Regions from separate parts of the Homo sapiens genome. Here region 2 is linked to region 1. The links come from fine-mapping of genetic effects on gene expression. Tissue or cell type: T cells. Region 1 holds a variant in brackets; the other region holds the start of a gene. All regions are shown on one strand. Distances are from middle to middle. Region 1 overlaps TOGARAM2 (TOG array regulator of axonemal microtubules 2). Region 2 holds the start of TOGARAM2 (TOG array regulator of axonemal microtubules 2).

What was found. PIP is the estimated chance that this variant, and not a neighbour inherited with it, causes the effect.
Region 2: TOGARAM2 starts here. The variant in region 1 is fine-mapped to the expression of TOGARAM2 in T cells (TOPMed, PIP above 0.99).

What each region holds. Positions count from the first base shown.
Region 1 is chr2:29,003,255-29,018,718 of GRCh38, forward strand. TOGARAM2 (TOG array regulator of axonemal microtubules 2) reads left to right here. Exons shown (of 20, transcript NM_199280.4): 6 at 238-428; 7 at 8,201-8,247; 8 at 11,141-11,307; 9 at 13,900-14,050; 10 at 14,538-14,702. Among named protein-coding and RNA genes, the nearest start is that of TOGARAM2, 30 kb to the left of the region's middle. RefSeq lists enhancers at 7,908-8,037, 12,064-12,113. The variant C/A (reference allele first, on the strand shown) is at 7,424.
Region 2 is chr2:28,975,341-28,990,804 of GRCh38, forward strand. It overlaps TOGARAM2 (TOG array regulator of axonemal microtubules 2), which reads left to right and starts at 5,958. Exons shown (of 20, transcript NM_199280.4): 1 at 5,958-6,198.

The DNA of each region.
Region 1 (15,464 bases):
CTCTGATGTTCTAGGATTTTTCTGAAATGAGAACAGAAAAACGAATAATAATAGTCACAAAAGGGCTTGCCAGTCTCCTCACCAGGAGTGGTAAGGAAGCAGTCAGGCTTCTGGGGGTCCCAGGGTGGTGTGGCTGAAAAGAGACAGCAGGTCCCACACTGTGTGAGGTGCCTGGAGGTGAGCATTCACCATGGGATGTTGCCATAGGCCAGACCCCTGTCCCGCCTCTGCTCCCAGGCGCAGATCTCCTGGCAATACCTGCACTGCAATGATGAGAAGATGCAGAAGTCCCTGGGCGCCATCGTGATCCCACCCATCCCAAAGGCCAGGACGGTTGCAGCGACCCCCTCCCGTGTGCCTGGCTCCCTTCCCAGCCCGTTACCTCCAGGCCAGGGAGTCCTCACAGGCCTGAGGGCCCCACGCACGCGGTAAGAGCTCCAAGTCAAACCTTCCTTGCTGACTTCTCTCCCTCTGTCCCCCTGAGATCCACTGGGGCTCCTTGTGGCTGACCCTCCATGCTGTGGCAGAGTTCTTGGGACACCAGGCAGGGAAAGGGCTGGGGGCTCCACCCATGAGCCACAGACCTAGGGAGGTCCCAGCATGGTTGCCGGGGCTTCTCTGCCTCTTGGCTCCGGCAGGCTGGGTCAATGGCATCACGAACAATGTCTCCAGCCTCTGTCTTCTCCCAGTGCCTTAGTGGATGAGGTTGCCGGAGTAATGAATAAAACACTAATTATTTTATCTCATATATATAATTTTGAGATGGAGTCTCACTCTGTCGCCCAGGCTGGAGTGCAGTGGTGTGATCTCAACTCACTGCAACCTCCGCCTCCCGGGTTCAAGCGATTCTCCTGAGTAGCTGGGATTACAGGCACCCACCACCATGCCCTGCTAATTTTTGTATTTTTAGTAGAGACGGGTTTCAGCATGTTGGCCAGGCTGGTCTTGAAACTCCTGACCTCAGGTGATCTGCCCTCCTTGGCCTCCCAAAGTGCTGGGATTATAGGTGTGAGACACCGTGCCCGGCTATGAATAAAACACTATTTTAAAGCATGATTGAGTTCATGGCAGCTCTTTGTAATTAAATATTTTCTTAATTGATGGATACTAAAAATACAACCAGTATCATGTGTATGGGGGACAGTCCACAAACTTTTGGACTTGAAAAGGGGTCTTCATATCCCACAAACAAGTGGGGAAGAGGATCTTTGTGTTGGCATAAATCGGGTTATGGCTTGTAAGTAAGACAGTGCTCTAGATGGCCAGCAACATCCCCGTGGTCAGTCCAGAGTGATGTCAGAGCACGTGTGTGTGAGAGTGAGTGTGTCTGAGTGTCTTTGTGTGTGCACACATGTATGAGTGCCTGCAGGTATGTGTGAGTGTATGTGTATGAGTGTGTATGTGTGCATGTATATGTGAGTATATGCATGTATGTGAGTACAAGAGTGTGTGTGTCTGAGTATGTGTATATGTGTGAGTGCATGCATGTGTGTGTGTGTCTGAGTGTGTGTGTGCATGAGTGCAAGAGTATGTGTCTGAGTGTGTCTGAGTGCATGTGTGGAGTATGTGTGTGCATGTATGTGTATGAGTGCATCTGTGTGGAGTTGTGTGTGCATGTGTGTGGAGTGTATGTGTACATGTGTGAGTGCATGTGTGTGCATGTGTACGTGTGTGAGTGCATGTGTGTGCATGTGTGTGCATGTGTATGTGTGTGAGTGCATGTGTGTATGTGTGTGAGTGCATGTGTGTGCATGTGTATGTGTGAGTGCATGTATGTGAGTGCATGTGTGTGCATGTGTATGTGTGTGAGTGCATGTGTGTGCATGTGTATGTGTGAGTGCATGTTGTGAGTGCATGTGTATGGGTGTGTGTGCATGTGTATGTGTGTGAGTGCATGTTGTGTGTGAGTGCATGTGTAAGGGCATATGTGTGCAGTGTGTGTGTGCATGTGTGTGGGTATGTGTGCATGTGTGTATATGTGTGTGGGACCATGTGTGTGAGTGCATGTGTGTGGAGTGTGTGTGCATATGTGTGTGTGTGCATGTGTGTGTGTGGGGTATGTGTGCATGTGTGTGTGAGACCGTGTGTGTGCATGTGTGGAGCGTATGTGTGAGAACGTGCATGTATGTGGGTGCATGTATGTGGAGTGTGTGTGTGCGTGTGTGAGAGCATGCATGTGCGTGAGTGCATGTATGTGAGAGCATGTGTGACTGCATGTGTGTGCATGTGTGCATGTGTGTGAGTGCATGTGTTTGTGTAACTACGTGTGTGAAGCCATGTGTGGTGTGTGTTCATGTGTGTGGAGTGTGTGTGCATGTGTGTATGTGTGTGAGGGCATGCATGTGTGAGCATGCATGTGAGTGCATGTGTGGAGTGTGTGTGCATGTGTGTATGTGTGTGAGGGCATGCATGTGTGAGCATGCATGTGAGTGCATGTGTGGAGTGCGTGCATGTGTGAGTGCATGTGTGCATGTGTGTGAGCACATATATGTGTGTATGTGTGTGTGTGAGTACATGTGTGGAGTATCTGTGTGTGCATGTGTATGAGTGCATGTGTGTGAGTGCATGTGTGTGCATGTGTATGTGTCAGTGCATGTGTGTGCATATGTGTCAGTGCATGTTGTGAGTGCATGTGTATGTGTGTGAGTGCGTGTGTGTAAGTGCATGTGTGTGGAGTGTGTGTGTGGGGTATGTGTGCATATGTGTATTTGTGTGTGAGACCGTATGAGTGCATGTGTAGGGTGTGTATGTGTGCGTGTGTGTGTGAGACCATATGTATGTGAGTGCATGTGTGGAGTGTGTGTGTATGTGTATGTGTGAGAGCACGTGTGTGTGTGTGGGGTGCATGTGTGTGGAGTGCATATGTGTGTGCATGTGTGTGAGAGCATGCATGTGCGTAAGTACATGTGTGAGCATGTGTGACCACATGTGTGTGCATGTGTGTGAGTGCATGTGTTTGTGTGTGTGACTGTGTGTGAAGCCATTTGTGGAGTGTGTGTGCATGTGTGTGGAGTGTATATGTGTGCATGTATGTGTGCATGTGTGTGTGTGAGTGCCTGTGTGTGGAGTGTGTGCATGTGTGTGTATGTGTGTATGTGTGAGTGCATGTGTGTGCATGTGTATGTGTGTGAGTGCGTGTGTGTGAGTGCATGTGTGTTCATGTGTATCTGTGTGTGTGCATGTGTGTGCATGTGTATCTGTGTGTGAGTGCATGTGTATGTGTGAGTGCATGTGTGTGGAGTGTGTGTGCGTGTGCTCAGGGCCTATGGGCCTGGCTCCTTCAGTAGAGTCACAATCCAGTTCCTGCTGTGACTGCTTCCCTCCCGTTTCTTGGGGCCTGATGACTTGGATTCTTCCATTTTTCTCACACTTCCTCATTCCCTCCATCTCCCTGGTGCCTTCCCTCTGTGCACACACATATTCATGTCTTTCTCCGACCCTGTGGGTTATAGAGACCCGTCCATGTACCTGCTCCTGGATTCGAGTTCTCTATTCAGTTTTCACCGTCAGCCTCCTCAGACAGCAGCTTGCTCCACTGACCTCCGCCTCCTCACCATTGCACACGTCCTCCCCTTTCCCACTCAGACGCTGGCCTCTTCCTCCCCTCGGAGCAGCCTTATCTGTGCCTCTCATGACTCACTGGCCCCAGACCTGTGGCCTTTCCTCTTATCTCTTTACTCTTGACTTTTTTGCATCATTTGAACCATGGATGGCCCTTGAATTTTTCTTCTTTTTCTGCATCCTGACTTTATACCTGCTTCTCGACCTTCCAGGCAGCTTCCTGTGTGCCCTCTTCCATTTCTAAGTTCTGCCATTCCCAAAATTGTTCCAGGACTGTTTGCCCCCATCTCCTGTTTTCTCCTGGGGCCCTTATGTGTGCCCAAGTCTTCCAGATGGTGGAATGTGGGTGAGTTCACATCTCCTGCTCTAGCCCTGGAACCATCCACAGGTCAGGCTCCGGGTTTCCATCTTTCTGTTGGGCATCTCCAGTTTCTCCTGGCTGATGTGATCCAGCACCAGAGGGAGAGACAGGGAGGTTGTGCCACCATCATGGCAACAAGGACCACCTCGTGTTTCCCCAAACCACCCCCTCCCAAGACCTCCTCATTGCTGTCAAGGTGCAGACCTTCTTCTTGGCCTTCAAGTCTCAGTGTCATCTTTGACCCTTGCTCCTAGTGCCTCCTGCTCCAACACATTTCCATAGCCCCCAAGTCTTTCTTAACAGCCATGAAAGCTCCACCCCTTTCTTGCCCCTGCCTTTCCCTCTTGGTTTGTACTTCCGCTTCCTTCTTGACCTCCCCTAATAGTGCCTAGCCAGTATCCTTGCAGCCCTGTGCGCTCCATCCCCATCTTTCATTTTCCTGCTTCCCCCGCCACCTTGCACACCTCTTGCAGGCCCTTTGCCTGTATTGACATTCCTGATTGAATGAATGGCGGGTCCTTTGTGTCAAGGACCCAGGCGCATAATGCTGAGTCTCCTTGGCCTGACAATCAGGGTCCATCCAGCCCACGACCCCACAGTTCCTCCCCGCTGTCCCCCAGTGCTTGTTCTGTGGGGCCTTCTTACCCCTCCAGACCCTGAGGACCTATTACCATTTCACTCATCCATCCATCCATTTACGAGGGGACATGGTGCTTCCCCTCGTCCATCTCTGCAACCCCAACAGCCTCTCACCCCTTTCCCCACCCATTCATTTCATCTCCACTGTTCCATGTCTACCTACTCTCCCTTTAAAGGGCGGCAAGGAGGGGAAGTGGTCTTCTCTGCATTGTCCACAGGCATCCAGCCCAGGGACTGCCTCAGCCCCTCCCTTCCATTAAACAAAATAAGCAAATCTTGATTATTTAAATTTATTTTGTTTATTTATTTTGTTTTATTTATTTGTTTTTTATTTTTTATTGTTATTATTTTTTGAGATGGAGTCTCACTCTGTCACCCAGGCTGGAGTGCAGTGGCACGATCTTGGCTCACTGCAACCTCTGCCTCCTGGGTTCAAGCAATTCTTCTGTCGCAGCCTCCCGAGTAGCTGAGACTACAGGAGCATGCCACCATGCCTGGCTACATTTTGTAATTTTAGTAGAGCTGCAGTTTCATCACATTGGTTAGGCTGGTCTTGAACTCCTGACCTTAGGTGATCTGCCCACTTTGGCTTCCCAAAGTGCTGGGATTACAGGCGTGAGCCACTGCACCCAGCCAATTAAAAATATATATATTTTTTTGAGATGGAGTCTTGCTCTGTTACCCAGGCTGGAGTGCAGTGGCACGATCTCTGCTTATTGTAACCTCTGCCTCCCTGGTTCTAGTAATTCTTCTGCCTCAGCCTCCCAAGTAGCTAGGATTACAGACATGCACCACCAGGCCCGGCTAATTTTTGTATTTTTAGTAGAGCTGGGCTTTCACCATGTTGCCCAGGCTTGTCCTGAACTCCTGATCTCAGGTGATCTGCCCACCTCGGCCTCCCAAAGTGCTGGGATTACAGGTAGAAGCCACCGCACCTGGCCAGCCTATTTTATTTAAACCTCATTCTGTTCTTTAACTTGGAGCACCACAGGGCAGGGGCCATATGTCAAAAACCTCTGTGGCTTCTGTGGGGCCAGGATTGGTACCTGGCATGGATTAGTTCCGTAATAAATATCTGTCCTTTCCTGTTTGGTTTGTGACATGGATTTCCCTTTGTTGACAATGTGGGGCTCTCTAGCCAATGGAGGGGATGGAGGCTCTATTACCATTTCAGTCATCCATCTGTCCGTTTACTCACCTAAAAGCTGTTAAGCACCTACTATGTGCCAGGTGCATAGGTCACAATCTGTGTGCTCCAGCCAGGAAGTCATCAAGGTGAAGTTCAGAGAGGTGGGTGCGTAGGCGAAGGCTGCCTGTCATGTTGGTGACCCAGGAGAAAGAGATCTGAATCATGCCAGGCAGACTTCTCAGGGCAGGATGAGGGCACACTTGCGAGATGGAGATGGAGGTGGAAGAGGGAGAGACGGAAGGAGGAGTGAGCCCCTGCATCCTTGCGTGACAGCCTGCGGGGTGGGGGTGAAGGGCCTGTGTGCCAACTGAGAAGTGGGAGCTTCATCCTCCTGTAAGGAGGTGCCACCAAAGGCTTTCGGGTGTGAAAGTGGCATCTGCTGTGACTTAGAAAGGCCATGTTGGCAACCTCAGAGTGGCATGGACCGTGTAGATGGAGGTGGGGCTGCTGCAGGAATCCGGGGAGAAGGCAAAGGGTGGCTGAGCAGGGCAGAGGCAGGGAGTCTGTGGGCTGAGGATGCAGAGGTGGGGGCGGGGCGGGATGAATGGCAGGGCTAAGCCACGGGGTAGATGTGGGCTGAAGATGGGGGAGCTGAGACCATGCCGGGGTTCCTGGCTTCAGCCACTGGACAGATACTGGCACCCTTCTTGGAGACAGGGCATAGGAGAAGAGGCAGGTGCTGGGGACAGTGCTGAGGCCACTCTTGGACATGCTTAGACGTTTGGGTTGGAGCCGGGAGGGGCTCTTGCTGGAAACAGGGCTTTGCTGCTCCTGCTCCACCCACCTCCTTGGGGCCTGCGGAGGAGCCTGAGCGGTGGTGGGTTTTCTGTGAGGTTCGCACAGGGTGGGGCGGGGCTGCCACGTGCAGGAAGGCAGGGGCCCTGATCGGCATGGCCTGTCTTGGCCTCAGTCCTTTCTGCTGTGGGGTCGCTAGAGAAGGGGAGGGCAAGAGGCTTCCCCAGGGTCCACAGCTTAAGAGAAGCTGCGCCAAGTCCTCTGAGGCCAAATCCCTTGCTCAGAGCAGGTGTGTGTGTGTGTGTGTGTGTGTGTGTTGGGGGGGCGCAGAGCGGGGGAGGCTGCAGCTCAGGGCCCCAGGGGCAAAGCCGAGGCATAAGCATTGGGGTTTTTGGCATCCTGTGCTCACCTCAGGCAGCCTGGGACCTCCATGAGCTCATAGAAGCCAAGGGCAACTGTGTGGACTTTGATGCTCCACTTCCCCTCCCCGCCCGCCTCCAATCCTCTTAGTGCCGTTGGGCAGTGGTTAAGCAGTGGTGGGTTACAATGGCAAAGGCCTAGTGGGCGAGCTCCCCAGGTCAGGGGTGCCCTGGAGCATTCGCTTACTATCTCCAGCCCACACGATCCCTCCCTGTGGGTCCAGACCCAAGAGGCTGGGCCTGGCCCTGGGAGCAATGGCGAATCCCGGCTGATCTACGCCCAGGTTGAAGCTCCGCTCCTCCTGTGGACTCCCCTGACCTCCACAGTCCCCAAGGATCAGGGTTCCCCTGCATCCAGGCAGGCACTGAGGGGGGCTGTCCTACCGCCCCTCCTGCAGCCCGGCCTGGACTGTGATCCTCTGAGGCCAGTGTGTGGGATATTGTGTTCCTGACCTGTTGCTGTGGCTTGTTACTCTGTCAGCCCCCCAGTGGGTCCTGATGTCCACCGAGAAGGGAAAG[C/A]CATGTAGGACGCTGCAGGGCTGGTCTCCATGGGAACCTGAGCTCCCGGAGGGCGGGGAGTGTCATGTCTTATTGATGCTCCATTCCCAGTGTCTAGAATAGTGCTTGACACATAGTAGGTCTTCAGTAAATATCTGTTGAATAAGTAAATGGTGCTTCCAACTTAAGAAATTACAATTAAAACCAGTGCCAGGGATGCCACTGTCTTCCCCCTCCTGTGGGTAATTGGGATTGAGCTTCTGGTACAAAACAGTGGTGACTTCCTGCCACAGCAAAGGGGATCAGCTCCGCCCCCCAGGCCCTGGGATGGGGATTACAATCACGAGTGGGACTATTTAGGGGTCACTGAGCTCTCACGGGGTTGGGGCAGCTTGGAGAACTTGAGCTCAGTGCTGTCTAAGCTGGGAGGCAGTTTACCCTTGTTTACTGCAGCTGCTGTCAACTCCACAGGCCCAAGCAGCACAGCGGGAGGGTGGGGGCTTCCTTTAAGTCAGCAGTTTCTGTGTGGGTGTCAGCCTCCTGGGGAATGCGCGAGCTGCACTGCCAGGAAATGGGGCTGAACCTGGCCTGGTGGTCAGCCTGCCCTTGTGTTTGCAGAGGGAGCTGTATCTCCTGCAGCTTGAATCCTGGGCCAAGAGCCTCTGCAGGGATAACAGTGCCGTCCCCTCTGTCCCCCATCTCGGCCATTGCCCCATCCTGGAGCCACCCTGGGCTCCCCCAGCAGTGTCTCTGGCTGGCCATCCCTCATGATGCTTTTCTCTCCCCCGTTCTTTTAAGATTGGCTCGGGGGAGTGGGCCTCGGGAGAAGACCCCTGCATCTCTGGGTACGTATCTTCCATGCACACCTCCCTTTGTTATTTGACTCTCTACATTCCTGGGCTGGGTCAGGGAAACAGAATTAGGGCCAGAGGAGATCTGAGAGCTCTTGTGTCTGGGCCCTTCATTTCACAGCAGGAAGCTGAAGTCACCGGAGGTCTAACCGGAGGGTGGCAGCGGGCCCGGGCGAGGTGTGGAAGAGAAGTGACATTTATTGACACCTGCTCTGGTACGTCAGGTGTGATGACGTACACCAGCTTGTGCAGCTTGCCACGGCCTCGATAAGAGAGACAATTCTGGCCGTGTGTGACAGACGAGCTGGCACACGAAGGCTCTGTGAGCAGGATGTCCTCCCTGGTCGCTGAGCCCCATCAGGCTTGCAGCCAAGTTTCCACGGCTCCAAAGCTGGGGTCTTGACACATCAAGCAGCTGCCCCTTGCGGTGTGTTAAGCAAGTAGAGAGAGTATTCCTCACCTAGAGAATGAGAGGGTAAACCAGAGCCCACAAACCTCAGCCAGCTGGCCCCAGGAGCTTTAGCTGTCAGGATATAGGGCCAGCACAGGATTGAGGCGAGGAGAGGGGACAGGGCAGGGTAGGAGGCCTTTAAAGAGGGAGGAGGGATCCTTCCTGGATTGAACTCTATGGGGAGGTGGGACGGGTGGATGGAAGCTGAGCCTCTGCTGCAGGGTTGGGGAGCAGAACACCCCGAACCCAGGCCAGGGTGGGGAGGAGTTGGAGGCAGCCGCTCTACTGCCCGGCAGGAGGGGTGGCCTCCCCAGGACCAGCTTCCTGGCAGGTCACTCTGCTAATCAGCTCAGCTGGTGGGGCAGTTGGCGAAGGGGGGTGGCTGTTGCCCAAGAGGCCCTGGGATCAAGACACAAAGCTGGACCTGGCACAAGAAACCTCTGCGGCAGCTGCTTCTCCCCTGCTCCCGGGCCAGGCTGCAGCAGGGTGAGCTCAGGCAGTCTGTGGCGAAATGCACCGGCACCCTGAGTGACCTTAAGAGCTAACCCGGAGGACGCTGGTGTGGGGGTTGGGCCAGGAGACCCCAGTCAGTAACCACTTCCTCCCCTGGCTCTCCAGCTTGCTGCTTGAGAACCAGGTCACCAGGGACCTGTGGCAGGGGCAGGCTGCTCAGACAGGGCTTTCCAGGGCATCCCTTTGGGGTGGAGGTGAAGAAGTGACATAAAAAATAGTTAAGTCCTTAAAGGGCTCTCTGCCCTCCAGCTGGCAACTGGGCTGACACTGCCCTCTGTGTGCAACATGCCTAGCACATGGTAGGGGCTCACAGGGTCTTGTCTGAAGCTGGGGGCTTCCTCACATCTGTGGCATTCCTGCAGTCCTTGCCCTGGCCAGGTGGTGCCTACCACATGTGCCCTCTGCTCTGCCTCTTACCTCTGGGCAGATGAGGCTTCAAAGCCCCTCTTCCCCCTTGGCCCTTGATCCTTCTCCCTGCACCAAGCAGAGGAATCCTTTGCAGAAGACATGGCCTGGGCAGAGGACCTGGGTGACCTGGGAGCTCTGCACGGGCCCCAGAGGTAAGATGCCTTTTCCAGCCTCAGGCAGCCTCAGCTGGTGGCCCCATCTCAGCAGACCCCTGACTTGCAGGTTCACCCAAGGACAGTGAGCTCCAAACCCTGTGGGTGGCAGAAAATGAATGAACCTGTTTGAGCCCTGCCTTCATAATGAGAAATGTACCTTTAAAATCCGCTGATGGGGAAGATATGAATGACAAAGCAATACTGTGGATTTGATGCCATCAAGTGGAAGTGAACGGGTATTTTATCCATCCCAAGAGCATTCGAAGGTTACTGGCTGTATTAGTCAGGGTTCTCCAGAGGGACAGAACTAGTAGGATATATGTCTGTATATAAAGGAGTTTATTAGGGAGAATTGGCTCACACGATTACAAGGTGAAGTCCCACAGGCGGCCATCTGCAAGCTGGGGAAGAGAGAGGCTGGTAGTGGCTCAGTCCAAGTTCGAAAGCCTCAAACCAGGGACGCCAACAGTGCAGCCTTCAGTCTGTGACCAAAAGTCCGAGAGCCCCTGGCAAGCCACTGGTGCAAGTCTCAGAGTCCAAAGGCCAAAGAACCTGGAGTCTGATGTTTAAGGGCAGGAGGAGTAGAAGGAAGCGTCCAGCAGGGGAGAAAGCAGGCAGCCAGAAGACCCGGCAAGCAAGGTGATCCCACCTTCTTCCACCTGCTTAGTTCTAGCTGCGATGGCAGCTAGCAGCTGATTGGATGGTGCCCACCCACACTGAGGATGGGTCCTCCTCTCCCAGTCCACTGACTCAAAGGTCGATCTCCTCTGGCAGCTCCTTCACAGACACACCCAGAAACAATACTTGACCAGCTATGTAAGCATCCAATCCAGATGGCACCTAACATTAACCATCACACTGGCTCTCAGCTTTTCCGTCTGTGAAATGAGACTGGACTAGTGTTAGATCTCTGGTCCTGGCAACTCTGCCCTTTCCTGCTGCGTCATGCTTTCAGGCAAGCCCATGGTCATATGAAAGGATTGGTGGGCCCATTTTGCTTTTTCTTTTCCTGCCGTACGTACCTCCCAGGACAGATACACTTACTTATATTCTCAGGAAATGTCTTACATCTCCTGGATAACACATCTGGCCCTGTTTCCCGCCCAGCCTCCCCAATCCCACACCTATCTTGGAATAAAGTGTGCAGTGAATGAACGAATGGAGGGTGATGCTGGTCCACAGGTAGTCTGTCTCATGCCTGCCAGTGCTGCCCTGTACAGTAAACCTAACTCAGGTCTTGCTCCATTGAGGAAGAATTGAGGGTGTGGGGCTTAGCAGTAGAATTGAGCCAGCCACAGGGTCAGTGAGCTCAGCAGTGACCTGGGTGTCTTCAGCTCCACCCCTGTTCTCAACCCCTCAGAGCCAAAACCTTTGGCCTCACCCATCAGAGACAGGCCTGCCGCTGCCAAGAAGCCTGCCCTGCCTTTTTCTCAGTCTGCTCCCACGCTGACAGCCTTCTCCTTTGACTGTGCCAGAGAAGCCTGCCCTCCGCTGAAAGAAGAGGACCAGAAGGAGATCGGCACCAAGGTACCTGGGGAGCGGGAGGAGGAGGAAGTGGGGCTGGAGTGGACCGCAGGCTGCAGGAAGGCAAGCAAGTGTCTGAAGTATTCAAGAGTGGGACCAGCCACAGAGCAGAGCAAGGAGAGCCCGAGGCAGCCACCCAAGTACTAAAGGCCAGAACCTGCAGACGGGGTTGGGGTGAAGGCTGAAGAAAGGAAGAGAAAGGATGGGGGTCAGAAGCGGGGTGGGGAACTAGGTGCAGGGAAGACTGCAGAGGGTTGCTGAAGGGGTAGGAGGGAGGAAGGAAGGAGGACGGGGAGGTTGCACAGGGCTCACGAGGAAGCCGGACGTGGGGAGAGAGCAGGAAGCCTTAGGTGAACTGCGCTGCGTGGTTTGAACTAACACCCAAGATAGCAAATGAGAGGCAGCTGACTCAGGGCTGATCAGCCACGGGCTGTGCTCCAGGGACTGGCGAATACCTCACACTTCTCAGGTGACCTTGGAAGGTGGTCTCTTCCCTGGTTGGAACGAATTTAGTGAAGCTTGGGGAGTCACTGTAGTGAGGAGCCTGTGCTCATTCTTTGAGACAGAACATTCCAGGTCAAGAAGCATATCTTGAAGGCCTCCTGGGTGCATATTCTCTGTTAGAGACTGGGTGACTGTTAAATCAGCACCACAACCCTCCCACTGTAGAGAGGACCACAGAACAGGAAACACAAACAATGATTCAGTGCAGCGAAACGAGCTGATCCTCCACCCCACTTCTGCGCTCCCTCCTGTGGCCACATCGTAGGCCTTGGCATTCTAAAGTGTGTCCCCCCACCATGGTCTCAATTTCAAGCATCCCATTGGCTCACCACCTTCTCCTGCTGTTCTGCTCAATCCAGCTAATCCTTCAGTTCCAACACTTGTTCCCTCTCTGGCATCAACAATATTCTCCTTGAAACAGGATCATTGCTATCAGCATGTTAGCTCTCTGTTACCTCTTTCATTTTAAGAAAGCGGAACAAAACCAAGAGAAAATGATTGCCGTGTCTCTCTTCTCTCCTTTGTCCACTCCTGACAGGCATTAGTCCACACTCCCCACTGAAACTGCCCACATTGGAGTTGCCAATGACCTTCATCTTCCCAAATGCAGCCACGGTTAGTCCTTGTCTACCTTGACCCCATCGCAGCTTTTGATACGACTTGTGTCTCATCCTTGAATTCTCCAGCCAGGGATAGGGGTGAGGGGTGGCTCTTTTTTGGTCCTGCCTACGTGAAAGGCAGCTCCTTCCCAGCCCTTCTTGGCTGCCTCCTCCTCATCTCCCCGGCCTCTGGATGCTGGAACTCCCCCAGCGCTCAGCCCTCTGGCCTCTCGTCTATTTATACTGACCCGCTAGGTCCTCATCCAGTCCAGACATTAAGTACCATCTCTATGCTGAGGACTCCCACACCTCCCTCGCCAGCCTAGACCTTCCCTTGACCTCCAGACTAACATGTTTAGCTGCTGCTCAATATCTCTGCTTAAGTGCCTAATTATACTTCCAACTGACTGTGTCTAAAACTCAACCCTTGAATGCTCACCTCAGAAAACCTCCTCTCTCCCCAGGGGCCCACTCAACTCCAGCCTTCCAGTGGCTCAGGTCAACCACCTCGGGCGTCCTTGGCTCCTCTCTTCCTCTCTCGCCCCGCACCTCATATATCAGCGAAGAGAGTGAGCTGCACCTGAGAAGCATGTCCAGAATCTGCCCACCCCACCATCCCCATCGCCGTCCAAGCCCCACCACCTCTTGATTGGATGTTCAGCTGCCTCCTAAACACTCTTCCTGCTTCCAGTGTGAGGCTAGCTCCAGACCCTTCCCGTGCAGCAGCTGGCATGAGCCTTAGAGAAATGGAAGTTAGAACGTTCTGTGGATGTGGAAGATATTATCACTGGGGAAGGGTGAAGGGAACACAGGAAGTCTTGGTTCTATTTTGACAACTTACGAGTTGTTCTTGCGTCTTAAACTATTTCAAAATAAAAAATTATAAAAAACAACACTTAGAGACAGCCCCCACCAGTGGAAGGCAGATCATGTCACTCCTCTGCTCAAAACCTTAAACGGCTTCCTGTGTCCTTCAGAGGAGAAGCCCAGTCCTTTCCTTGGCCCGGGTGATGTGGATCCTGCCCCCTGCCTGATCTTGTGTCCTGTCACTTCTCTGACTCAGAGAGTTCAGCCAGTGTCCACCCCCTGACTGTCCCCAACCAGCCAAGCACACCCGGCCTCAGAGCTTTTGCACTCACTCCCTCTGCTTCAAACACTTCTCTCCTAGAAATCTGTGGGGCTGGTCTCCTTCCTTTATTTCTGTCTCCACTTAAGCTTCACCTCCTCGGGGAGTCCCTAGGGACCTTCTAGGCTAAAAGCCACTATCATCTCTGTCTCCTTACTTTTCTTTCAGCACATACTGCCTGATATCAGCATTTGGTCTGTTTGTTGTCTCTCCCCCACACTTCAAAGCTCTTAAGGTGCAAGGAGTTTGTCTTTTTTGTTCACTTCCAGGACAGCAATTGGCACACAGTAGAAACATTTTTGATGATTGAATGTTGATGATTGAATGAATGGGAGGTTAATAGAGTTTGCCTTGACCTTGTGCCAGATCCAAGTCACCATCTCCAAGTCTGCCCGGGAGAAGATGCAGCTGAAGCAGATGAAGGAGATGGAGCTGCTTCGGAGGCTGGAGGAGCCCAGGACAGGGCAGGAGCTCACTTCCCAGTGCCTGGGCTCCCAGAGAGCCTTCATGAAGGAAGGTACTGGGTGCCTGGTGTGGGATTTGCTCAGGCCTGGGGAGCTGAGTCCACTCTCTCATAGCCTGCTGATGGGCCCATTTTCTTTTTTAAAATTTTTATTAGTATTTATGTATTTATTTAGAGATGGAGCCTCACTCTGTGGCCCAGGCTAAAGGGCAGTGACACAATCACAGCTCACCACAGCCTCAAACTCTTGGGCTCAAGGGATCCTCCCACCTCAGCCTCCCAAGTAGTGGGAAATACAGACGTGTGCTACCATGCTTGGCTAATTTCTTTTAAATTTTCTGTAGAGATGGGCATCTCCCTATGTTGCCCAGGCTGGTCTTGAACTCCTGGCCTCAAGCCATCCTCCTACCTCGGACTCCCAACATGTTGGGGGTACTGGCATGAGCTACTTTGGCCAGCCATGGGTCCATTTTCAAAGGAGGACATTGAGGCCAGGGGAAAACAGACCTGCCTAGTCCTAGGACTTTCTCTGTGTCCACAGGCCTCCTTCCCCTCCGGGGCAGCGGGACACTGTCTGTGCCCACTAGGCTGAGCGGCCCATGCAGAAACGACGTCAGCATCATCCTGAGGAAGTGGGCCAGCCGGGCCTCCCTGCCCAGCATCCCCATCAGCCGGCAGGAGCCCCGCTTTGCCCGCCACGCCTCAGGTGGGCAGGCCCGACTGGCAGGCACACGTGTCCCTCTGCCCATGCTGCCTCAGGATGCCCTGAGGCATGGCAGAGGTGACCTCGGTGGCTTTGCTTCCGCCCCTTGTCCATGTTAGACCAGGAGGCAGCCTGGGGTGGTGGTTGCCTTGCCAGAGAGAGAAACAGTGTCAGGGACTCATCATTGTCTACAGGCTGGGCTTGGGACCCAGGATGTCACAACTGGAGTTGTGATGTCCTCAGCCTGTGTGACATGTCCGGAGGAGTGACCAGTGCACGAGGGCCAAAGACACTAGACAATAGCACCCAAGGAAGCAGCTGTGAACAGCAGAAAGAGGATGAGAGGATTGGGGAAGACCTCGGTTTCTTTCCTGTTGCTTCATAAAATGTCAGGGCTGGACAGCACTGGCTACAGACAGGAATCAGAGGGTCCAGAGCTTCTACCAGGGCACCTCAGGAATCGTGCCTGGGACATGGGGACGCTCTGTCCCCATTCTACCAGAGGAGCTTCTATGTTGCCTCATTTTTTTTTTTTGTATACTGGGCATTCATGTGAGATTTCATTTGGAAAGATTTTGCTACTGAAAAAAACTTAAAAACAGTCAGCTTGGTTCAGAGTTTCTGTAAGTGTGGGATGTGATGGTAAATGATCATGGACTAGAGCATAATTTCCATGCTGTAAATAATGCCAGCTCATCTCCCTTTTCAATCCTCTTTCTATCCTTTCAATTGTCTCAAGTAGAAAGTCTGAATTTGGTGCTAGTC
Region 2 (15,464 bases), 28 kb before region 1:
ACCACGCCCGGCTATGTTTTTGTGTTTTTAGTAGAGACGGGGTTTCACTGTGTTTGCCAGGATGGTCTCGATCTCCTGACCTCGTGATCTGCCCGCCTCGGCCTCCCAAAGTGCTGGGATTACAGGTGTGAGCCAGTGTGCGAGCCACTGCGCCCGGCCGAGACATTTTATTTTTTAATGTGTTTTAAGCACGTTCATAATTGCAAATTGAAGCATTTTTATGATGACTATTTAGAAATCCTTGTTAGAGAATCCTCAAATCTGTGTCATCTGGGCGCTGCATCATTGATTGCCTCTTCTCATTCAAGTTATTTTACCTGTTCTTGGTATAATGAGTGGTTTTCAGTTGTCTCCTAGACATTTTGGGTATTGTGTTGTGAGATTCTAGGTCCTCTTCTGTCTTCTTTTTTTGCAGGGCATTTATCCTGTTTAGGTCTAGCACACAGATCTAGGTGGGATTGGATGTTCGCTTCACCACTGGGCCTTGCTGATACCATCTCAGCAAAAGCAGGATATTGCCTCACACCCCTATGCCTTTCCTCATTGCTGATGATGGGATGGAATTTCAGCTCCCCACTGGGCCCTGCTGGTGGAGGCTTTTTAAAAAAATGACAATATATGTACAGGAATATGTACATATTATAAGTATGTGAAACATATGCTTAATTTTTACAAAGTGGAAGTTTAGGAGCATTTTACACATTTTCCTATTTCTTTGCATGTTCTTATAAAAACATATCAAATTCTGGGCCAGGTGTGGCGGCTCACGCCTGTAATCCCAGCACTTTGGGAGGCCGAGGTGGATGGATCACGAGGTCAGGAGATCGAGACCATCCTGGCTAACATGGTGAAACCCCGTCTCTACTAAAAATACAAAATAATTAGCCGGACGTGGTGGCGGGTGCCTGTAGTCCCAGCTACTCAGGAGGCTGAGGCAGGAGAATGGCGTGAACCTGGAAGGCGGAGCTTGCAGTGAGCTGAGATCACACCACTGCACTCCAGCCTGGGCGACAGAGTGAGACTCCATCTCAAAAACAACAACAACAACAACAACAAAAACCCATCAAATTCTTTTTTGCCATTAGCTTCTGGAGTTATTTACTCACCTATTAACTCCTCCCCTCCCCCTGCCCTCCATCTCTCGAGCTTTCCTGTGGCTGTGGGGCAGGGAGCTGCTCTTCTCTGACACGTCCTTTTGTGGAATGGGGAGAAAGGAGGGAGAGGCACACCCCATGTGAGATGAGGGGTTGGCTTCTGTTGGGAGAAGCCCTGAAGGGCAGCTGGGGCCAGAAGCAGCATAACCAGAAGGCGTTAGTCCCCATCCTGTCATTACCACTGAATTCCTGTGTGACTCCATCATCTGCGATAAGAGGGGCTTGGCCTAGTCCTCTCTCTGATCCTGTGCTTAGGTTGCATACATTATTCTAGAGTTTCCCAGGAACTTCCCAGGGAACACGTCAGCCCAGTGGCAGGTGCTGGTTGGGAGGGGCCTGTTCTGTGTCCTTGGCAGTGTCTGAGCACCCCCACCCAGCCTGTGGTACTGACAGGGCCTTTCAGGCTCTCCAGGCTGGGGCTGGCCTTGGAGGGGGTGGGGCAGTGGTATTTTGGGAGATAAGCCAGCACAGTGTCAGTCTGGAGGCAGTGCCAGCTTGCCTCCATTATCCGCTTTTCTACCTGGGGGGGCGTGGCCTGTGAAGGGATGGGGGGCTTCCAGCCTTTCTCCTCAGCCTGGGCCAGGGCCCAGGACACAGGGCATCAGGGCTCTAAGGGACCAGGAGGTCACCCAGTGTCTGATCACAAATGACAGTTTGGAAGCCCAAGGAGGGCAGGGACTTGTTGGAGGGCACACAGTAATGGTGACAAAGTCAGGACTGGAACCAACTCTCTGTCCACTTGCCTGGAACCCTTGGCCATGCCCTATGCTAACCATCTTTAGCCTGGGGGCACCTTATCCTGAGGGATGGGTACCTGAGACAGAGATGGGGGAGGCGCCTGAGCATACCACCTCCTAGGGTCCCTACCAGGGGCCCTTGCTCCCCATGCTCCCTGGGATCTGACCTCCAGCTAGGCCTGGGATGGTCCTGGTTTATAAGGGGGCAACACCAGCCCAGGGGGTCAGAACTCCCCCTACCTGTTCCCTGCCATACAATGTATGGGGCTGAGACTCTGGTCTGCAGCTTGGATCTCAGGTCTGGTCCTGGAAGAAGCGGTGAATGTTGCAGGGGCGGGGGCTTCTTATGCCGCCAGCCACTTCCTCTCCCCACGTGCAGTCAGGTTGGTGTCGCTCTCTCAACACCCATGTGGAACCTGGCTGGCGCTGGTTCCAGAGATATAAGGCATGAATCCTGCCCCCAAGGAGCTCACAGTCTAGGTCTGTGTGGCTGGCTGGTGGGCCAGGAGAGGGGCGGGCAGTTACAGTCAGCGGATGAGTGGTGCTGTGATAGGGAAGTGCTGGCCCTAGAAAGGCAGATGAGAGGCACCTCTTTTCTAGAGAGTCAGTAAGGACTCCCCTTGGGAGCACGTGGGTGGGAATTGGCCAAGGGAGATAGGTATAAAGTGTTTTTTTTTTGGTTGTTTTTGTTTTGAGATGGAGTCTCATTCTGTCATCCAGGCTGGAGTGCAGTGGCACAATCTCGACTCATTGCAACTTCTGCCTCCTGGGCTCAAGCAATTCTCCTGTCTCAGCCTCCTGAGTAGCTGAGATTACAGGCATGCGCCACCATGCCCAGCTAATTTTTGTATTTTTGGTAGAGACGGGGTTTTACCATGTTGCCCAGGCTGGTCTCGAACCCCTGGCCTCAGGTGATCTGCCTGCTTTGGCCTCCTAAAGTGCTGGGATGACAGGCGTGAGCCACCGTGCCCGGCCGGAGATGGGTATAAGTAAGGGGTAGGAAGGGATATGGGAAAGGCTTTTGGGGTGGAGGGAACAGCATGAACAAAGGCCAGGAGAGGAGAGGAGCATGACAGCTACATCCCAGAGCAAGGGGAGAAGACCCCTCAGTGAAGTCCCTGCTAATAGCCCAGCTACGTGTTCAGGAGACTATTTGGATATAGGATGCTCAGGTCATTTGCAATGGGAAGTGTGTTCAGGGTATCTAGTCCTTCTTGTTGCTAGACATAGAAACAGCTTTGTTCACTTTACAAATCAACAAGGGCCAAGAGGACTCTTGGTGACATTTTTACTGAGGGAACAGGATCAGAATTTAGTAGTCTTCCACTGACCAAATCCATCAGCATGGAAAGTTATAGAATGTTGGTTTCTGAAATCTTGAGTAGATTTCTGGGGTAGATGGGGGCTATCCCCTGTGGATGTGGAGGGGGCTACTTATTTGGTACTTTCAAGAGCCCTCTTCCCAGCTTGTGATTCTGTATTGTGAGTCAGTTTAATTCATTCACATCAAGTATTTGTTCATCGGTTCTGGGGGTGGGAGCAGGCCAGTGTGAGCACACCCAGGAGAGTCGGGGCAATGACTGGGAACACTGGGCACTGGAGGAGACAGGTGACATCTGGTTTCCTTCATAGCTGTTGACCCTCTTCCGAGGGTCTGGCCGCCCTTCCACCAGGGGTCGATACAGGCTTTGTGAGACTCGAGGCTTAAACAATTTGGGGGCTTCTTTAAGAAAGAAAACAAAATTAAGTATGAAAATATTTTTTTAGAATGAGAAAAGAAGTCACAACAAATGACTGAGGGCTGGATTCGTGTCCCTTTCTTTCTGAGGTCTCTTCAGGGGAGTTCCAGAGAGCTTCCAGGTGGCAGCCTGGCTGCCCTCCCCACCTGGAGTGCCCCAATCCTTCCAGGCAGCTCCTGGCTCCCCCAGAGGCCCGGGGCTCAGGTTGTGTTTGCCTCAGCGGTTTCCACCCATGCTCCTCGACTGGCCTGCTCCTTACCTCGGGGATTTCATGTGGATGTCACACCTCACTGCCCCTGGGATTCGCTCTCTGTCCATGGTCACAGTGAGGGTGAGTGCGTGCTCTGTGCCTGGCGGGCACACTGAGGGTCACTGGAGCCACCCCAGGGAGGGAGGATCTGCAGTCTTCCTGCTAGGCATATGAAAGAACCAAGACTCAGAGAGTTTGTTTCTTGCCTAAGATGTCATTGCTGGGATCAGAATCCAGTCTGGAATCCAGGGGCTTCAGAGCCCTGGTTCTTAAGGGCTGTGCTGTGTTATCCATCCTCCCTTATTGCAGGTAACACAGGAACAAGCAGGGGGTTACCTGCTGGGGCCTCTCTCCATCACTCAGCTCCTGAGGGCAGGCTGTGCTGCCTCCTGTGTCTCTAGCATTTGGCACAGAGCATGGCCAGCCCACCTTGGGAACACATAATGCTCGGCCATCCAGTGGAGGCAGAGTGTGGAGAGCCCAGGAGCTGAAGGAGGATGCAGTGGGGCCTGATTAGAGGGGCTTGGCAGCCATGGTGCTAAGTCTGGCCCTTACACCAAGGACAGCAGGGGCCATGAGGGGTGTCCAGCAGGGCACGGCCATCGGATCTGTGTTCTAGAAGCTCCGACTCAAGCAGCGACATGCAGATGGGCTTTGGGGGAGCTGCACACACACCATCTCCCTGCCAGAGCTGAGGGACACCAAAACCTGCCTTGTCACGTCCCCGCCCTGGGTTCCCATGGTTGAGTCGCTCTCACTCACAAGCTGTGTGGCTTGGGGCAAGGGCTTAACTTGCCAGGCCTCTCTTTCCCCACCTGGGCATCTTCATACCTGTCTCCCAAGGGGAATCCGCACAGCCACTGTTCCTGGTTTGGAGGAAGAGTCTCCTTTCTGGGCCTCTGCTACAGGGAGTTCAGGAGTTCCGTTCGCCTTGTCAGCTGTGACCTCTGGCTTGGGGCCAGCACCTGCCCCAGAGGGACCTTGTTCTCAGTCATAATTGGCTGGCCCTCCTTGCTCCCTCCTGGATCTTGGTAAATGACAGCAGCTACTCCCAAGGCCTGCCCTCCCTGGCCATCTCAGGGAAGAGGAGAGAGTCCCAGGAAGGAGCTACCCCGTGTGCAAGCATTTCAGCAGCCCAGGCCTCGTGGGGTGTAGTTGGCCTCCCACCAGCCATCCCTGTGTGTTCCACACACCTGCTGATTCCTTTGTACAGAATATGGGGAGGAGCTGCCTGGGAAAATTCATAGTATCTTTGGGCGAGTGGCTGTTTGCAAGCCTGCATACAAATTGAGTCCTTGGCTTCCACTGTGTGCCCCCTGGATGGTGAGGGCTAGAAGGGGGTAGCATGAGGAGTGGGACTGGCTGTCATTCCAGAGAGAGGATGCCAGCCTGGGATTTCCGCCCAAGAGCCTGGGTTCAGTGAGAAAGTACACATGGGCTGCTAGGATTCACATTTTCCAAAAGTTAAGGTGGAGAAATCTGGTTGGGACGAAGGCCACAGGCTTTCTGCTCTGCAAGGATTTCTGGGGAAGTGATGGAGAGCCTACCAAGTGCTAGACAAAATTACAAGCTGTTACATGCACCTTTGAAATCCTTACAGCAACCCTATCAAGTCAGTACTATTGGTGTACCCATTTTATAGATGAGGAAACTGAGGTCAAGAAAGGTAAAGTTCTGACCAGAGGGCACACAGCTGGAAGTAGCAGGATCAGGATTCAAACCCAGCTGCCTGCTGCCAAGGCCTGGATGCTCACTCTGTCTTTCTGCCTCTAGGAGAGTTAGTAAACAGAAGCAGATTGAGCCCAGAGGCCATGTGAGCAAAACCAGGAGTTCTACCAACAACATCCCTGCACCAAGCCAGCTATGCACTTCCTGGCTGCAGTCACCAGGCAGGGGGGCCCAGTGCTCTCTCTTTCTGTGGTGTCCATGACCCTAGAGGACAGGTCGGCCACTTGGTAGTGCCTGTGCTCCGGTGAGCCACAGAGGCAATGAGACCAAGGGGAAAATCTCTCGGCTCGGTCTCTCCCCCGCGCAGGGAGCTATGGGCTCCTTCAGCGAGTGGTTGCTATGCAGCCTTGTTTATTCAAGGAGAGCTTTGCTGAGAGCTGGAGCACGCCAGCAGTGGAGCTCGTGGCCACCCAGCCCCTGCTCAGACAGGAGGCTGCGGCCCAGGACTGTGTGGCTGGTGGGGGCCAGGGTGGGCCAGGCCTGGGGCTGCCCCGTCCTTGCCTCCCTGGGCCCATGAGCATCAACGTCTCTATAGAGACCAAGGACCCTGGATTCCTCCAGTGACAGGGGTTTGGCCTCTGGACAGAGAGGTGAGAGACGATAGGTCCACCAAGCCATCTATTGTAGGTGGTGAATGGGAGGCTGGGTCAGGACCCCTGAAGTCCCTGGAGGGAGGGATAAAGACCTGAACTGGAGCAAGCACAAACACACAGAGAAAGAAAAAGCATCCTGCTGTGACTTGGAGGCTGTGTGACCGTGGGGATGTCTCTGACCCTTTCTGGGCCTTCATGTGGCAGCTCTAGGGGAGGAGGTTGGACTCACTGTTCTCTGAGCACTGGGAGCCAAGGAAGGAGGGGCTGGCCTGGGCTGACCCCTTCCCCGAGTCATGGCCTCTGTGGGCAGTGCTCTCTACCTCAGGGTGAACCCTTCACAGGGCAACAGCTCCCTGGGGTGCTGTGGGCGATGGTGCCGGGAAGGGTGGGGGCATGCTGTGGGGATGGCACCCGTGCTTAGGGGTGCTGGGGCACCCCGTGAGAGCATAGGCCTTGGAGGGGCTCTGCTCTGGGTTTGAATTCTAACCCCCCCTCTTTCTGGCTGTGTGGACTTGAGCTCTTTGCCTCTCTGAGCCTCAGGTTTCTCATCTGTGAAGAAGGGTTTAAAAAAAGCCCCCTTGGTGCTGTCTGTGAGCATGGAGACAGTCAGGAGGGCAGCTGGCACGTTAGCCCATGCGCAGAATGGAAGTTACTGTTTGTTGTTGATGCTGTTGTTAGGTGGAGATTGGCATGTTCCTTTCTGGAGCACATTTCAGTCTCCTGAAACTAAGGTTTTGCCAGTCACTTCTCCAGGACAAGGGCTGGTGCTGGCGGGGGACCTCAGAGGGCTGCCATTTCCTCAGGAGCGCTGGGAGGGGAGGGACTGGGGCCCGTACTCTGTCGGAGCATCACTGAGGCAGGCCACAGGGCATTGGTGCCTGGCCCCAGGAAGTGGTGTGAGGGGCCCATAATCGCTTCTATCCTGAACTGGGCAGTCCCTCGCTCTTCTCACCAATGCCCTGCAGGAGACGGCCCTGCAGCCTTCTAGCCACAGGCTGGCTCCCAGGACTGGCTCAGTTTCAGCCCATGGAGCCTGAGACTAACAGATTTGAAGAAAGGGGGAGGTAGTTGGGGGCAAGGGATGGGGAGATGTCAACCTGAGCTCTGGAGAGACCTGCCTCTGAGGGCAGCGCATCCTCCCATTGACCCCACGGCTACCTCAGAGGCACCAGACTCTGCTCACTAGCACAGAGGCTGGAAGTTTATTATTGCAGACAGAAGAATGCATAAAATGCATGCAGTGTGAGGAATAATTATAAAGTGAATGTCCATGTAGCCACCTCCCAGGCCAAGAAACAGAAAAACTGGCCGCCTCCCAGAACCCACCCCCGTGGGCCCTGTCCTTATCACAGCTGCCTCCCTTCCCCTTAGGGTTAATCATGCTACTAATTTTTCCTTGATTTTCTATCAAGTTTTCCATCTATGTCTGCATTTTTATTTTAATTTAATTTCGCTTCATTTTTTGAGACAAGGTTTCACTCTGTCCCCCAGGTGGGAGTACAGTGGCATGATCTCAGCTCACTGCAACCTCTGCCTCCTAGGCTCAAGTGTTCCTCCCACCTCAGCTTCCCAAGTAGCTGGGTGTACAGGTGCACACCACCATGCCCGGCTAATCTTTGTGTGTGTGTATATATAAATATATATATATATATATATATTTTTTTTTTTTTTTTTTTTTTTTTTTTGTAGAGATGGGTTTTTTCCATGTTGCTCAGCCTGGTCTCGAATTCCTGGCTCAGGTGATATGCCTGCCTTGGCCTCCCAAAGTGCTGGGATCACAGGTGTGAGCCACCACGCTGGGCCTATGTATGCATTTCTAAACACTCGATGTAATTTTGTCTTTCTTTGAACTTTATAGAAGTAGGGGCATACCCTGTGTGGTCTCTTGGGTCTGTCTTCTTTCACTAAACATTACGCTGTGGCATCGTCCATAGTGTTGAGTGGGGCAGTCGTTTGTTTCATTGCTCTGTAATATTCTATGTTGTGAGTGCACCATGATTTAGTCCTTCATTTTCCTGTTGGACATTTAGATTTTTTCCAGATTTTGGCCATTATCCATGGCACTGCTCTGGACACTCTCGAGCTCCTTTCCTGGATCACCTGTGCAAGACTTTCTCAAGGGTGGGTTCCTAGGAGTGGAATTGCTGAACATTAGGTTTGTGCATTTTTAGCTTTATCAGGTAAAGCCAGACCACTTTCCCAAGGGTTTGTGCCCATTTGCATCTCACCTGCCAGCTGTCATGAGTGCTCCCATTGCTCTGTGCTCTCACTAGCACTTGGCATTGCCGCCCATCTCAATTTTTGCCCATCTTTGTGGGATGGTGGTAGCATCTCATTTGCATTTTCTTGATTACCAGGGGGTTGAGCATCTGCCCCCAGCCATTCTTCCTCACCTCTTTCCTCCTCTGTTGGGTGCCTCCCTTCCTCTGCTCTCTGTGATCTCAGCCCCTCATGGTGCTCAGGCTTTTGAGCCCCATTTTTCTCTCTGCCCTCCCCACTCCTCCATCCCTCTCCTCCATTCTTCTTCTTGGAGAACCAATCACTATTCCACATACTTCTTAGTGTTTGAATTACAGACCCAGGCTCCAGAGCCACTGTCTGGAAGTCTGAGTTTCCCATTTCGTGTTTTAAAACCTCTGGTTCTTGGCCCAACTCACATCCCTTCCTGGGTCTTGGATTTCTCTTCAACAAAACAAAGACAGAAAAAAAAATGTCCCTCCACAGAAGCCATTTATATTTCCCAGGCAAAACCTGGTGTATGTCCTGGAGAGGCACACACAAAACTCTGGCTCCTATTCAAGAAAGTCGGCTTTCTCATGGGCCATTGGGAAGGGACAGGGCCGGGGTCTGAAGTCTTCTGAGCTTCTTGCAGGGAGGCCTTTGCCAAGAGCCCTTTCCTGGGGTGTGACAGACATTCAGATGCTAGAGTCATGCCAATACACCTTTGCTGAGACTTTGGACAAGATGCTTTCTTGCTTCCTAGTCCCTTCTGATCCTCTGAGTACATGTGCTTGTTTACAGTCTACAGTTTGAAGATTCAAGCTCCTGCTACTGGGCAGGAATCCTCAACTGATCAGCCAAACCCTGCAGAAGGCATTCCTGGGGCAGTGGACCAAGCCATTTTTCATTCGAGACTCCAGGACTATGATCAAGTGCTAGGATAACTCTTACCTTGATGGTGGAAATCTCAGGGCCAGCAGAAGACTTCCAAGCCCCAGCCAATGGCTGTGTGATTTCAGGCAGGATTGATGCGGTGGTATCCTACCCCTCCCAAAACCTTAATCCTTGGGAGCACACTACACAGGCTCTGACCAGGCACTGTAGTGGCAAGGTGACCATTTTGGGGAGGCCTTGATGGGAAGCTGGAAAAGGAAGCTTTCCTCCCAGTCCTGCTGAAGGCCTTGCCAGCTGGCAGCCAGTGTGATGCCTATAGGGGTATGGGCCCTGGGATAGGTATTGGCTCCTGATGGCCTTATGTAGGTGTTATAGACTGAATGCATGCGTCCCACAAATGCAAATGTTAAAGCCTAACCCCCCATGTGTTGGTATTAGGAGGTGGGGCCTTCGGGAGGTAATTAGATTCAGATGAGGTCGTGAGGGTGGTTGTCTCATGATGGGTTAGTGCCCTTAGAAGAAGAGACCAGAGAGCTTGCTCTCTGTCTCTCTCTCTGCCATGTGAGGACAAAGGGAAGACAGCTACCTGCAATCCAGGAAGTGAGTCCTCACCAGGAGTGGAATCAGCTGGCACCTTGATCTTGGACTTCCCAGCCTCCAGAACTAAATTGCTGGGGTTTTTTTTTTGTTTTGCTTTTCATTTTTTTGTTTTGTTTTTGTTTTTGTTTTAAGTCGGAGTTTTGCTCTTGTTGCCCAGGCTGGAGTGCAATGGTGTGATCTCGGCTCATTAACCCCTCATTTACAAGGGAGGAAACTAGCTGACCTCCAAGGCCCCTTCCAGCTTGAAATTTAGTAACAGAAGAAAGGCATGGGAAATTCTGTTAAATTACTAGACCAAGTTCTGATTAATCTCTAATTTATATTTGCACCAACACGATACACAAAGGTGGGGGCAGGTTCAGAAGATTTTGAATTTTGTAAATTTGTGTATAAGTTACATACGCTTTGTTACTAGGACCACAGCCCACTCATATGGTTCCTTTGTGAATTAGAAAAAGATGTCTCTTTCTCAAGACACTTTTCTTCTATTCATCAGAAAAAGACTGAAATGAATGTACAAATATGTACAGTCATCGTCTAAAACAACATTGCCAGGACTTTGGAGAAGATGTAGTGTGAGGCTTATGCCTGTAATCCCAGCATTTTGGGAGGCTGAGGTGGGTGGATCACTTGAGGTCAGGAGTTCGAGACCAGCCTGGCCAACATGGCAAAACCCCGTCACTACTAATAATACACACAAAAAAATAACTAGCTGGGCATGGTGGCACATGCCTGTAATCCCAGCTACTTGCAAGGCTGAGGCAGGAGAGTTGCTTGAACCTGGGAGGTGGAGGTTGCAGTGAGCTGAGATCATGACACTGACCTCCAGCCTGGCCGACAGAGTGAAACTGTGTCTCAAAAAAAAAAAAAAAAAAGATGTAGTGTGAGAGATGTCTCCTTAATTAGGATGCCCTCGTGCAGTGCCCAACCTAGACAATCAAACATGGCAGCCCTGCTTGTCACTTATCTCATTGTTTTTCAAAAACAGCCTAAATAAAACTTTCTCTCCCCCTAGGCTTTCCTATGTCTTTTAGACTGTTAATTCTCACATCAGAATTTCCTGGGGTTGTGGAGGGGGGATGTTTTAAATGCTGCGGCCCATCCACCCCCAACCCGAGATACCCACACTGAGCTGCTATTACAAATGGATGGCCACATTCCTCGGCTGCGTTGGGCATAAAACAGTTGGGAAGTGCTGCTTTGGGTTTCTGACCACTTCCTCTGCCCTGTCCTGGGAGGTCATTAGATTCAGGTGTGAACTGCCTCCTGAACAGACTGTTCTGTTAAGAAAGGTTCTTCCCAGCAACGTGCTACTTGACCCCTGTTGTAAGTGTCCCGCCCCAGCCTGCCCACTGCTTCCTGCTCACCCTGGACAGCTCAGGAAATGGAAGGACCTCCTGCTGCACAAGGTGGCACCTCCGTGTTGCTGTCCAGCCTCAGCCAGGCCTCTGTAGCTTCTTGGCCCAAAGGCTTTCAAAAGGGACATTTCCCCTCTTCCTGAACATCTGAACACAGCAAAACAGTTACTAAACAACCAATACTATTAATAGCCACTGTGGATCGAGCCCTTGGGCCCAATCAGCCTATTAAATGTTTCTCATATTTTGTGGAATATTCTCAATAACCTTGGAGATAGATATTATTATTTCCATTTCGCAGTTAAATGGAGACTCAGAGAACTTTAATCATGTGCCTGAAGTCACACAGCTAGCAGGTGATGGAATTTAACCCTGTTGACTCCTGAATGAATGCCCTGAAATACTGCCACCTCCGTGAACAGAAACCATCAGCCCCGACTCTTCTACTTAGTAGCTCTGTGGCCTCAACCTAGTTACTTAACCTCTCTGAACCTCAATCATCTTGTCTATAAAATGAAGATGAAAATACATACTTTCTTTCTCTATTTCCAAAGCTCAATGACATAGTATTTGGAAGCACACTGTAGTACATTGCCCCGGGCGCAAAGCAAAATGGAACTAAGAAATGTTAATTCCTTCACTTAGGTTCTTCTCAATAAGACTGTCTGGAAGATGTGCTTTAGTGTTTTTTTATGAGACGGAGTCTTGCTTTGTCACCTAGGCTGGAGTGCAGTGGCATGATCTCGGTTCACTGCAAACTCCGCCTCCCAGGTTCACGCCATTCTCCTGCCTCAGCCTCCCGAGTAGCTGGGACCGCAGGCATCCACCACCACGCCCAGCTAATTTTTTGTATTTTTAGTAGACATGGGGTTTCACCATGTTAGCCAGGATAGTCTCGATCTCCTGACCTCGTGATCCGCCCACCTCGGCCTCTCAAAGTGCTGGGATTACAGGTGTGAGCCACCACACCCGGCCAATGTGCTTTAGTTTTGAATTCATTCATTCAGTCACACTACAGTTACTGCATTATTGCCATGAACCTGGCACTGTTTGTCCCTTTGTCTGCATTCTGTGGAATTGCTGGCTGGCTGCACCCTATATTGTCTGAGAACAGAGTGGCTACAGGAGTATTAACCCCACCTGATCTCACGATGGGAGAGGAGACGCCATCTGCAGCAGTGGTGGTAGACCCAGAGCTGGTAAAGAGTTGTGGTGGGGGGCTTCTCATCTGCGAACGGCCTTTCTGCTGGCCCCCACATGCCAGTCACAGCTGGAGTCAGGGGCCTGAGTGGCGGGGGGCCTTGGATGCCCCCACAGGGGGTCTGATGGGTGTGGACATCAGTCTCGCAGTTGGGGGTGAAGTGGCTCTTGGGACTGCCAGCTCTAGGAGTGGCCGAGTTGAGGGTCAGTGTGGAAACCAGCCCTGCCCCAAGCTAATAAAGATGGACATGCAGGTGGAGCCATCCAGGCCTCCTTGCAGCTTGTCTGCAGCTCCAGAGAGGGAGGTCTGGGCTCTACGGTAGGCTTGGAAGTCCCGATAATCAGATGGCAATTGAAATCACAAGGGTAGGTGCTGCCTGTAAGAAGCCCTCCTAATAAAGATGGAGGCATCTGGGAGAGGAAAGGAAAGGAATGGTTTGGTTCTTCTAAAGTCAGAATATGTCTCCGTGACTGTTCAGAACTTCACACTCCTGAGTCCAGCTCTCATGTGCAGCAGACTCACCTCCCTCTTCACTGCCAATATCAAGGCCGTTCTACGTGCCCTTTCTCTCTTCCTGACCTCTCCCTCTGTAGGACCCTTGGCTCTTCCTCCAGGGTCCGAGGACTGGTGCTCCCATCTGGCCCAGCCTGTGCCCTTCTCCCTCAGCTGTTAGCACTGGGCTCCCGCTCCATCAGCTCCCCTCCCTCCCCTGTGTCTTCAGCCTTTTCCTTCTGACTCTTTCTCCTCCTCCTGTGAACACGCTCTAGAATCTCCTACCCTGAAAAATACAGAGAACAAACAAGCAAACAAAAAATACAGAGAACAAACAAGCAAACAACACAGCTTCATCCACCCTTCATTCCCCTCCAGCTACTCTCCAACCTCTCTCCTGCCTTTCTCATCCAAATTCTCCAGCGTTGTTTGGACTCACCATCTCTATACCTTCCACTCACGCCTCAGACCTCAGCAATTTTCTGTGACCCGCATGCCTCCACAGGCACAGACCTTGCTCTCACTAAGCTCCCGATGATTCCATAATGGTCACATCCAATTGGCTGAGCTGACACCTCTAACCACTCTCTGCTCATCTGGCTCTCCTGGCGCCAACTCCCCTGGCCTCCCTGGCTGTCCTTGATCAGACCCCCTTAGGGTCTCCCCTTCTCTACCCATCTCTGCTCAATGCTGCTGCTCCCTGGGATGTTCCTTAGCTCTGGGCACTCTCTTGTGGTCAGGTTTTTGTATTTTTATTTTTTGAGCTGGAGTCTTGCTCTGTCGCCCAGGCTGGAGTGCAGTGGTGTGATCTCAGCTCACTGCAACCTCTGCCTCCCATGTTCAAGTGATTCTCCTGCCTCAGCCTCTTGAGTAGGTAGGATTAAAGACTTGTGCTACCACACCCAGCTAATTTTTGTATTTTTTGGTAGAGATGGGGTTTTGCCATGTTGGCCAGGCTGGTCTCTAACTCCTGACCTCAAGTGATCTGCCCACCTTGGCCTCCCAAAGTGCTGGGATTACAGGTGTAAGCCGCCATACCGGGCCCGCTTTTCATATTTTATTGAATGCAATATTGAAGTGAGATAAGCATTATCTCCTTTTTTTTTCTTTTTTGAGACAGGGTCTTTGTCGCCCAGACTGGAGTGCGGTGGCACAATCTCAGCTCACTGCAGCCTCAACCTCCTGCGCTCAAGTGATCCTCCTGCCTCAGCACCCCCAAGTAACTGAGACTACAGGCACAGGCCACCACGCCTGGCTAATTTTTGTATTTTTGTAGAGATGAGGTTTTACTGTGTTGCCCAGTACTGTGTTGCCCAGGCTGGTCTTGAACTCAAGCGATCTGCCAGCCTTGGCCTCCCAAAGTGCCAGGATTACAGGTGTGAGCCACCATGCCCAGCCAATTTTTGTATTTTATAGAGACGAGGTTTTACTATGTTGGCCAGGCTGGTCTCGAACTCAAGCGATCAGACAGCCTTGGCCTCCCAAAGTGCCAGGATTACAGCAGTATTTCCACTTTGCAGTTAAAAGAGCTGGGGCTCAGAGAAGTTTAGCAACGTGCCTTCAGTCACACAGCTTGCAGGTGCTGGATTTTAGTCTTATTCCCCTTCATATCTTAGTACCTATGGCATGTTTGAATGAATGAGTGAATCTCACATTTTCAGTGGCAGGCCGAACTCTGGAGGTCAGAGTCTCATAAGTTGGTCACCTGACAACATCCAGAGTCCTCCCTGCAGGTCTACGGCCTGGGCTGCCTCCCATGAGGGGAGCAGAGGTGGGTGGAGGGGTGAGATGTATGTGTATGGTGATTGGAAGCATGGGTAGCTGTTTCTTGTCCACAGGGAGACAGCACGAGATACAGGAAGGCATGTTCTGTCCAGTCTAAACCCTGCGTATAATCAGTGTGAAATCCTGGTTAAGTTGTTTATTTTCTGTGCCTGGTCCAGAGGCTGGGCTGACATCTCTACATGTCAGTGCTGTAATTCTCTCCGAGGCTCCCCTTCCTTAGGAAGTCCTTCCAAGGCCCCACTTGAGGGGTCTGCATGAAACTGCAGGTCAGATAATGCCATTCCTCTCCTTGCACAGTCTTCAGAGTTTCCCGGGGCTGCAGAGCAAGCCCCGACCCTCTCACAGAGCATTCTGGGTCTCCCCCGATGGCCCTCATCCCGCTCCCCGGGCCTGGATCCTCTTGCCAGACCCCAGACTCACAGGCGCATCTCCTCCACGCTTGCCTTAGGCCGCCTCCTCGGCCTGGAATGCCATTCCTCCTTCCTACCCGTTTAGACCCCATTTCCTACCCGTTTTGATCCTACTTCCAGGCCCAGCACGGATGCTGCTTTTCTGTGGAGCCTCTCCGGTGCCCTAGTCAGACAGTATGGAGGGTATCCCTGAGTGCTCATCTCTGTAGCAGGGTTACTTTGTCCTGTCGGGCGTGACAGTGAACGTTCACCTTCTCTGCTTGGCATTACAGACAGCATTCGCTTAGAAATGTGGGCTCATGG